Regions from separate parts of the Homo sapiens genome. Here region 1 is linked to region 2. The links come from fine-mapping of genetic effects on gene expression. A gene starts in region 2. The other region holds a variant in brackets. All regions are shown on one strand. Distances are between the middles of the regions. Region 1 overlaps SPTA1 (spectrin alpha, erythrocytic 1). Region 2 holds the start of SPTA1 (spectrin alpha, erythrocytic 1).

Region 1 (5,390 bases), 32 kb before region 2:
TTTCTCTGCATTTCCCTTCCAATTATTAGCAACTACAATACCTAGAGGGAGATCTCAGCCACAGAGTTGCCAATAGCTTTGGGGAGAATATTTAACAAGTGTGAAATAAATTAAAAGATCATGTAGAATATGCTGAGGGATAAAAGCAAACAATGGCAACCTTCAAGAGAAGGTTCCTCTTTCTCACCTTTTGGAACTCATCAAACTTTTTCTGCAGCTCCCAAACATCATCTAGTTCCACTCCAGTGTTTTCTGCCTTTTTCTCTTGAATCCATTCCAGCATGTCTCCTGCCTCATAGGCCAATAAAAATTCATTATAACGTTGCAATAGACGACGTCTGCGTTCTTCTGCCCGATCCAAGAGGGAGCGGTATCTGGATGGAGAATTGGGAAAAGTGGAATAAAAGAAGGAGAAAATACAGAAGAGTAGAGGCTGAGTGACAAACATAGAGAAAGAAGGAACAAAAATGAAAGGGAAAACAAATCAAAAGCAAAAGAATAGTAGAAGAGAGGAGGAAATAAACTTAGAAGGAAAACAGCCTTGGGGGCAAAAAGATAAACACATAGGATTGCATTTAAAAATAGTAAAAATGCCAGTGACCCAATAGTATGACTGGCAACATTCCTTTCCCATTTCATAAAAGTGACATTTTTACATGGTAACTGACAATTGGATATGAAAAGCCTGGCATAGTAAACAAAGTTCATATAGATGTCAGGAGACTTTAATAACCTTGAAAGAATGTGGGGCAGGGAATCAGAAGAGCTCTGTGAAGTGTATGACCTCAGGAAATTGATGGAATGATTCTGGGGTTGCCTTTCCTCAAAAAGAAACCGAAACATTTAAAAGATTCTAGGTTTACTTTCGATTCTTAAAATCTTCAGATTTTCTGTGGCATCTCAAATCTAACAGATGCAGGGTCATGAGAAGAAATGCCTTTGGCGAAAAATGTCTGACCAAATACTGTTCAGTTCTCCAGGCTCCAGAACTTACTGGTTCTCAATCTGCTCCTGGCGCTGGGTGATGTTTCCTGGCTCTTCTCGTCGCCGCTGTGGGAGCATCGGGAACTCATCGTGGGCCAGTCTTCTGACATAGACAGCTGGGACAATGCCCTGATGATCAGCAGCTTCCACCTTCCACCAGTCCTGAAGGGAGAGCAGATCCCCACTCCGTCATTAATTCTTGGAAAAGCAACAAACGGGAGAGACTTCAACACTAAGTCTCTTGGCCCAGGCACAGGTTAATGGCAAAGATAAGCTAACCATGTCTAATGAGTGGCACATAATTTTCATATATGACCAAGAAATGAAATGAAGAATTGCATAGACAAGCCCCTGAAATCAAGTAATCTGATACCTAATGTTAGACCCTTAACTTTGGAGAGATTTTCAAACACCCAAGACAGCTCTTTTAATGATGGGGCACTTTGTTCATGAGGAATTTACAAAAAACACATGGAGCCAGGCTCTAGCTGGATTTCTTGGCAGTGGAGCGTCTGTGTAAGAGGATATTGCACAAAAATTCTTCTCTTCTATTCTTCTTGCAGAGGTCTGAAAAATGTGAATTGCTCTGACATTCATATACCTGAGTGTTACTTTATTTTTTATTTTTGAACTGTTGCCACATCTACCAAAACCCTGAGGCTAATTTCCTCAAAAAATAATGAAGAGGCCTAGACAAAGAAAAAATGGACTGGCACACATTATTTGATAATGAAACATCTGCCGCTCCAAACATTTACTTGTCTTTGGAATAACTATAGCCCAAACTATTTTCTTTTCTTCTTAAGAATTTTTGTAGATTAATTAGGTATCAGAGTATAAAAAATTACTTCAGTTTTTATGAAAAATATATTTAAAAATCTCAACCAATATTTTATCACTGTTCTTCCAGGCACAAGATCTAAAGAAAATCAAGTTGACAAAAGACTCATCTTTTGGTAGGCTCCTTCTAACCCCAGACATTGTTATTTTATCACTAGAAATACTGGCACAGAAGAGGAACAAGCAAAGAGGAAGAAAGAAAGAGACAGCTTAGCCCTTTAAATATATTATAGAATTTCCACTCATACTTTCTATATCTTTGGGCTAATTATATAACTTCAATTCTTTATGATTTTAACTGCAACATTGGGATTATAATTCCAAAAGATATGTGTAGGATCCTGCAAAATATCTACAGGAAAAATACTACCTAATCAGTTATAGTTATTCAAGAAATAAAATAATAAAATAAATGTTAGATGGTAAAAATATGAATATCTGGCAGGATTGGGAGAGATGGTTCTGAAAGAGCCACTTTTTGATGGAAAGATTAGAAGGAAAAGTCACCTTATTGATGGAACTGAGCAGCGTTAAGACATCACCTTTCTTCATGGTGACTTCTCGGGGGCTGCGGGCCTGGAAGTCATATAAAGCCATGACCCTTTGTTCTCCAGCAACTCCCTCCACTGGTGCAGCCTGTTGTTGCTGAATAAAAACAGGAAGCAGGTGTCAGTCACGCACTGGAAATATCTCCCTGTACAGCTTACCAGGGGTGAGTAGTCCTTTAGGCTTCCCAGGAGAAAAGAGCCTCTGGCTGGAACCTCTTACGTGGCTGCAGAGATTAAAGTATGTGGTCTTCAGAGAGACTGCTCCATTCTGACACTTATCGGGGACAGGCAGGTTGGGAACTATAAACCCAAAGCAAGGAAGGAAATACATAATTTG[T/C]CAGAAACGTATTAAATGCTCTAAGCCATCAGTTCTTAAAATGGGAGGAGTACATTTTAAGAAGTGTACTCCCTTAAGAAGGTCCAACAGGATTATACACATCAACATTTCAAAAAATTGTTTGAGAAAGTGAAAAGACCCACTCTCTGTCGTCACCTTTCCCTGTACCTCCAGTGATAATTCTTCCCACTCCTTCTGGCCTTTAAGTTACTATGTCAGGAGCTCCGGACCTTCTATTTGAGATATGAGTGATCAATAGCACAGGAAAGGCCACAGAATTTTAAAAACTGAGAACATTAACTGAGATCATTAAAAGTATCTTGTGTCTCAGTTTAGTAAGCAGCCTGCATTCTAAGGTAGAATTTTCTCTGATTTTTACTTTCTGCCAATTTCATGTCTCTGAGAAATCAAGCAAAACATAACCCCTCTTCCTAAGGAATGACCCACCCCTTCCTCAGGTTGGAGTTGAATATGCACCTCCACCGACAGAGCCCTCTAATTTCATCTCCTTTAGGTAACATGTTTCCTCATACCACACAATATATAAATCCTTCTGTTCTTGTTTAGGCACCCACTGTGCAGAGCCTGGTGAAGGCACAGTATAGGAGGTCTGTAAATATACACTGATTTGACAGACTGAGTCTACGTCTTTTGTTTACTCTGAATGTGTGGATTAACAACCTCTCATTAGAAAGAATTCCTTGAAGGTAAGAAGTGTGTCTCTTTTTTTCTACCACTACATATAGTAGACATTGTTATAACATTTATTTGATTCCAGTTCAATTAATCTTCATGACACCCAGTTTTGCCCTGTACCTGAGCCATTCTCATATTCTCAACCAATTGCATCTTCCATTCTCACATTCTTAACCAATTGCATTTTCCACAAAACTTGATTGTTTTGTGCCTCAGTGCATTTGCTCTCATGGTTTATTGACTAGAAAAACGCTTATCCTCTTTCTCTGCACAGTAAACTACCCATCTGTCTTTCCTTAATAATTCAGATCAGGCGGTTTCCCTTAGCTTACAAAAATTTTCCTGTTTTCCAGTACTGTTATTTCAAGAGAACACAAGAGGCCTTTCTTTGAGACTCTTTGTCCTGTTCATACATCTATTATATGCACTTACTGTTAAACATCTGGCCTCCTAATAGACTGTAATTTTCCTGCAAATCAGGATTTTTTATTCATACTTACATATAGTAGACATTTAATAAGTTTTGGCATTAAAAATTAAGAAACAAAAGAAGGGAGTAAAGAAGAAAGATAAGAAGGAGAGACATAAATGAAGAAAAGTAAGAAAGAAAGAAGGGTAGAAATATAAAAGGAAGGAAAGAGGAAAGCCAAAAATACATCAATGAAGACATGATACCATTTATCAAAAACCTCTTTTGGACAAAGTCTCCTTTGGACTAAATTGTGGATGCTACAGTTCCTGCATACAAGGGTCATAGAACTTAGTGTTTTCTTTGCCATTGTTTTTGGGGTTGTAGAAAGTAAAAAATCAGCAATAAAGACAATTTCTTTTTCTTTGTGGTGGGAAGTGTGAATCCTGTCATCGCTAAGTTAGTCTTACCTGGCAGGCGTTTGCCTGATTCCGCAGAGCTTTCATACTGTCTCCAAATGAATTGAGATCTAATAGAAAGGCCTCATGCTTCTTTAGAAGAGCCTGCATTTATTGATGGAAGATCATCAGAATGAATATAGGAGGAACACTATTATTTCAACTACTATTATTTTGGGTTATGCTATTTGTCTTAAATCCTGGTAAAAGCTGCTTTCCATCTATCATAAAGTTATTTTTAACCCTAAATTTGCAAGCATGAAGGAAATAGGAATTAATAAATTATAATTTCAATATGTTTACTAAAATCAAAATTAACTCAAACTTGCAAAAGTATTTTTATCAACACAGATTATAGCTGAAAAGAGGATGCTGTTGATACTGTTACTTTATAGGATAAACATTAGTGTAACTTAAAATATGCATACCAATAATTTCTAGTTCCAAAGGTTTGTGAAATACTATACCAGCTTCCTATGGGACAATGTGCAAAACAAATAAATGGATAAAAAGTGTGATTATAACCTTTGTGGTTCTTCTTGCCCCAACATATCTGTCCAATTTTATTTTAATCAAGTAATTAAGGTGTCTCTATCTTAAAACCATGATTAATTTATAAATGCTCAAGGTTACTCTGGAAAGTTTAGGATCGGATTATGACTATGACTCTGATCACACTTTTTTGATTTAGATAATCTCTAAAGAGTATATGAATCTCCATGGGATGAGAAAAATGTAGCATATCTTTTGGGATTCCTGTCAACTCTGAGGGAGTCTCAGCAGATGAAGGCCAACGGCGACCACTCTGGAAACCCCAAATAATCTGGCAGAATCTGTAGCTGTCCCACAACCTAAGCAAACCCTAAATTGATAATTTGGTTGCGTTTGTTGAGGATTCACAATGTTAAACCCACCCCCACCTTACCCCAGCTGCTTCTTCATCAGCACCATAGTTAGTATTATCTACAATAGGTTCCTTCTCTCTGATCCATGTTTCTGCTTCATGCAGGTCAGCCAGGTACTGCTGGAACTGGACATTGGCTTCAAGATCATTTTGTCGCCTAGCAGCTCGAGCACGGAGAGACTCCATATTCTGGTTCAAACTCTTGACCCTAGAG
Region 2 (5,390 bases):
TGAGAGTTTTTTTTGCATGCTGTGCCTGTTCTTGTAATCTATAAATTGATCCATTCAATATAGCACATTATTTTGCTCTTGTTCTAGGTGTTTCCTGTCCAACATCAATTGCTTCTGATTATGACAACACCACATGCTATAATTTTAGGTGAATAGAAAGGGGTAGGCACTTTCACCAAATTTCTTCTACTGAAACCTCTCTTTTGAAGTTAAGAGCCATGAATAGCAATTTAGGGAAGAAAAAAAAAAAACTCTGGTTAACTCATCTCTCTGAGAAGAGTAGAGAACAGGTATCACATGCTATAATTTTAGGTGATCAGAAACGCGTAGGAGCTTTCACCAAACTTCTACTGAAACCTCTCATTAGAACTTGAGACCCATGAACAACATTTTAGGAAAAACTTAAGAGCCATGAATAGCAATTGAGTTAACCAGGTTAACTAAATTGGATTTTAGTTAACCTGGTTAACTCTTATATTTCTGAGAAGAGTGGAGGACAGTTGCTTCAGAAGCATTGATGACTCTTCACCCTATTTCCCTTCTTAATGTCCCAAAATATCAAAAATCACATGGTTTGTCAGAAATTTCTTGAATTTGCAGTTGCTGTTTTGCCTGTAGGTCAATTTCAGATGAGTATTGTAACCATCAAATTCTATACAGAATAAATCTCCTTTGCAAATAACACCCCGATGTTTATGAAGATGAAGACATGGACTATTTAGAGGCAGAATTACTGTTTCTAACAGACAGTCTAATTTTTCCATTACATCACTCCCACTACAATTAACCAGATATACACTTACATTACCATAATATTTGTGCTGGATCTGAAAAAAAATTGATGTAATTTTTTACTTTTGGCATTGATGAATGCTTCACCATGAAAATATGTAAAGTATCCTATGCCCTTATCAATAAGCAATATCCTTGGTTAATGATTAAAAAATGTATATTCTGAATGGAAGTTCATTGTAAAAAACAGTTCTGTGCTTTCAACAACTGAAAAACTGCTGCTTTTTGTTTGATTCTTATTTTCTCAGTCTCACCTCTCCAACTTCATAAGGGAAAATGCACTTTTAGATTTTCTATTAATTTATTTCTTTAACTTCCCACTCCACTGACTTATTTTTGTTTCTAAACGGAATCTAATTGTACCCACACATACCCATTAACATTAACATAAAGAAAAACCTATTTCCTTCTCTAGAGATCTTAGGGTCTGCTCTGAGGCAATCAAGAGAACTGAGTGACCTGTATATTAGTTGGGTCTTCATAGCTCTTATCGGTTAAGATATTGACTTTCTCCATGATCCACTTCCCCAGATCATCTGCATCTCGCTTGAAAACTTGTAAGTGATAGGAATCCTCAAGCTTCTGACCCCTCTCAGCGACCCGCTCCTTGAAACTTTGATACCGAGTCAACACTTCCTGACGCCTCTCCTGGATCTCTTCTGCTGTTTCCAAAACCTTTGGCCCACTGCTCTCCACAACCTGCAAGTTAAAAAGATTCTGTTACTTGCTAGTTCTCAAATATTTAACATGTTGCCCCGCTTATATGTGTCAAGGTGTTTACTCATGTTGGACCTATATTCAGATATCCTGAAGTTTCTAGGGACTATTGTCAGAAGAGCTGTAGTATATTTACGTAATTTTTAACCAGACATAGCTTCTGTTTAGGTTAAAAATTCTTGATTATCCAGAAGACTCTCCTCACTTTTTACATAAATTTGTGCTAGCATTTAAGTTCTATAGATATAATTATATTGGACTGATCATGGAGCAAGTTTAAATCAGCAAAATCACATAATTTCAGATAGATAAAAAGAAATATAATGTTATTGCTTTCAAGGGCTAAAAAGGTGTTGAGAAGTGCTTATTATTTTTAACTTAATTTAATAAATAATTAAGAATGGCTTGCAATTAATTTAGTTAATGATATATGCAACAGTTTGAAAATTTTGTTTCCTTCATACTTAAAAATAAATCTCATATATTTACTCTTTACTTGCTTTACTCACAAACACTATAAATCAAAAGTTCAGCTATCTTCTGCCCAATTGTCACAAATTTCAAATTATTAGCATGTCTGCAATTTATTTTTGAAATATAAAAACTTTTACTCTAAAACAATATATAAGTATCCTTTTCCCAGAGTGGGAGCCAACCTGTTTGTGACAATATCCAGCAAAATCACCATAGGGTTCACCTTCATTCTTCTGGATATGGATACCATTTTCCCTAGCTTACCTCAGCCAAAATGTTTAATATAGAGTTTAAATTTTAATCTCCCATTATTCCTCCTAAGTATAATTGCTACTCTGTGAATTGCCATTACTGGCATGGCTATAGAATTAGATCATTACATGGAGACTCACGTTGTTACTAGGTGTTATTTAGCTTCAATCTCCCTACTTATTCTCTCTGGGAACCGACTTAAGTCATTACTGGGTCTTGGTGCTGCACAGACATAAGCTCAAGGTTATTGTTCACAAAAAATAGTTAAAAGTAAAATTATCTATTTGTTAAAAGCCAAATAATTATTAATGTTCCTGGGAAAGATAGTATAGAAAGTTTAAAGGAAACATCTTTCCTAATAATATTAATGACAAATTGCATGGAAGAGAAATATGTACTTACGGTTTCCTTTGGAAATTGCTCCATTTTTCCTAAAGGTTTAGAACCTGGCAAGATAAAATGTGTCAGAGAGAGAGAGAGAGAGAAATAATTCAAATGGAACTGTCCAGTCGAATTCAAATAGAAATATAGAAACGTTAAGTATGTGGGGGAAAAAAAAAAACCTCTTGCTTGGTCCTAGAATCCCATCAGCCATACACAATCGACATTATCTTTAGAAGACATACTCAGCTGAGGCAACTGCTAAGTTTTACAGATACTGGGTGACTCAGCAGTTTTGGGAGGCTCTGGCTTTCAAAGTTACTCAATAAGACTTAAAAAATGAAAGTAAGGTTTTTGGATGAAAAATTAGAAAAAAAACCCCATATATTTATAGGAAATACAGCTCAACAACTTCATCCAACTCAACTGCAGATTTTTCACAGTCTTTAAGTCAACGAATTATCCTGGCTTTTTCTAGAGAGTCTTTCACAAAATAAGATTTTATTCCTAACCTCAACAATTTGGTCTTTAAAAATCTGATTTAGTTGTACTCTTAATCATTTAAATGGAAGGAACAAAAAAAGTTATATGATGTGTTCATTAATATTTTGTAAAACAAAAATTAGGATACCTTATTTGACAAACCAATGATGTCACAAAAAAGTTGAAAATATGGCTGACTTCTGATATATATGGTATAAATCATCCTACTGTATGTATTAATTTTAATGGAGAACAAAAAGAGGTAGACTTTTTCCATAGGCATAGTTATTTTAGACTAACTTACAAAAATGAAACAAACAAGCAAAAAGAAAATAGTGGGATGCTCTTAGACCTTTCTACAAGCCAGTGGGGCTATCCATGCCAAACTTCATTCCAGTGTAAATGCAGCTTGAATAATCTAACTTCCATGATCTACAAGAGAAGATTTTGATTCTACATTTGTGGTTTCCCCTGTTCTTGGATCTCACATAGAAAAACTGAGAGTCCTTTACATTCTCTTCTTGAAAGTCTGGATTACTTTACTTTTCCATATAGTTTCATTATATTCAAGTCAAATTTAGTAGTAAAGGCAGGAACATAATTTTAGAGACTGCACTATAACACATGCACTGAGGAATATTTGTCTGAAGTTGGGATAAGGAGAGGAAATTATTTTATCTTTAAGAGAAAAGAATCAACATCTATGAAATATTTATATATTAACATGATCAATTTACATTAATTTCTAATCTTTAAAAATTCTGTGAGGCAGGTATTATCATACCCGTCTTTATGTGAGAAAACAGTCCCTAAAAAACAAAGTTTCATTCTATGGTGATTTGGTTTGAAAGTATTTAAATAGTCAAATCCATATCAATATGATTATCATGGCACTCTGCTCCTTATTTTTTTAGTCAATCTTCTCTTAGTCCATCAACATTATTTGTTCTGTTTCCCTGTTCCAGAATCATCTTAGCAAGAATGCCAAACATGTGATAACCTTGTGACCAAAGAAATAGTATGGCCCATTGTGAATAGTGCCACAATATACATATGTGTGCATGTGTTTTTATAGTAGAATGATTTATAATCCTTTGGGTATATAGCCAGTAATGGGATTGCTGGGTCAAATGGTATTTATGGTTCTAGATCCTTGAGGAATTGCCACACTGTCTTCCACAATGGTTGAACTAACTTACACTCCCACCAACTGTGTAAAAGCATTCCTATTTCTCCACATTGTCTCCAGCATCTGCTGTTTCCTGACTTTTTAATGATCGCCATTCTAACTGGCATGAGATGGTATCTCATTGTGGTTTTGATTTGCATTTCTCTAATGACCAGTTATGATGAGCTTTTTTTCATATGTTTGCTGACTGCATAAATATCTTCTTTTGAGAAGTGTCTATTCATATCCTTTGCTCACTTTTTGATGGGGTCATTTGTTTTTTTCCTGTAAATTTGTTTAAGTTCCTTGTAGATTCTGGATATTAGCCCTTTGGAACCAACCTGAATGCCTATCAGTGAAAGACTGGATAAAGAAAATGTGGTACCTATACACTATGGAATACTATGCAGCCATAAAAAAGGATGAGTTCATGTCCTTTGCAGGGATATGGATGAAGCTGAAAACCATCATTCTCCACAAACTATCACAAGGACAGAAAACCAAACACCACATGTTTTCACTCATAAGTGGGAGTTGAACAATGAGAACACATGGACACAGGGAGGGAAACATCACACCCTGAAGCCTGTTGCGGGGGTGGTGGGATAGGGGAGGGATAGCATTAGGAGAAATACCTAATGTAGATGACGGGTTGATGGGTGCAGCAAACCACCATGGCATGTGTATACCTATGTAACAAACCTGCATGTTCTTCATATGTGTCCTAGAACTAAAGTAAAATCATCACAATAAAAAGAAAGTAAAAATGCTTACTAATTCTATAATGTTTATTTTAAAAAAAAAGAAATAGCATGGCCCAATCAGCAGAACTGATCATAAGGAAATAAAAGTGTCTTTTCAACATATGTGTTGGAAAAATTGCATATTCACATAAAAAAATGAAATTGGACCCTTATGTTATGTACAAAAATCAACTCAAATGGGATTAAAGACTTAAATTACAACCTGAAACTGTAAAACTCCTGGAAAAAAAAAAACACAAGGAAAAAGCTTTATGACTTTTATCATATATAATAAGAATTATATATTTAGTATTTTATACAGTTTTAAAAGGATGGGGATAATTTGGAGGGCTGTTGTATCTGGCCATGGTTATCACCTC

What was found.
Region 1: its variant is fine-mapped to the expression of SPTA1 in subcutaneous fat (GTEx, PIP above 0.99). The same link has a PIP of 0.9 or more in breast.

Annotation. Positions count from the first base shown.
Region 1 is chr1:158,652,280-158,657,669 of GRCh38, forward strand. SPTA1 (spectrin alpha, erythrocytic 1) reads right to left here. Exons shown (of 52, transcript NM_003126.4): 19 at 5,198-5,390; 20 at 4,285-4,377; 21 at 2,332-2,469; 22 at 995-1,146; 23 at 188-374. Among named protein-coding and RNA genes, the nearest start is that of SPTA1, 32 kb to the right of the region's middle. The variant T/C (reference allele first, on the strand shown) is at 2,710.
Region 2 is chr1:158,683,857-158,689,246 of GRCh38, forward strand. SPTA1 (spectrin alpha, erythrocytic 1) reads right to left here and starts at 2,859. Exons shown (of 52, transcript NM_003126.4): 1 at 2,638-2,859; 2 at 1,252-1,491. The coding sequence starts at 2,661. RefSeq lists a silencer at 4,706-4,920 and a cis regulatory region at 5,280-5,390.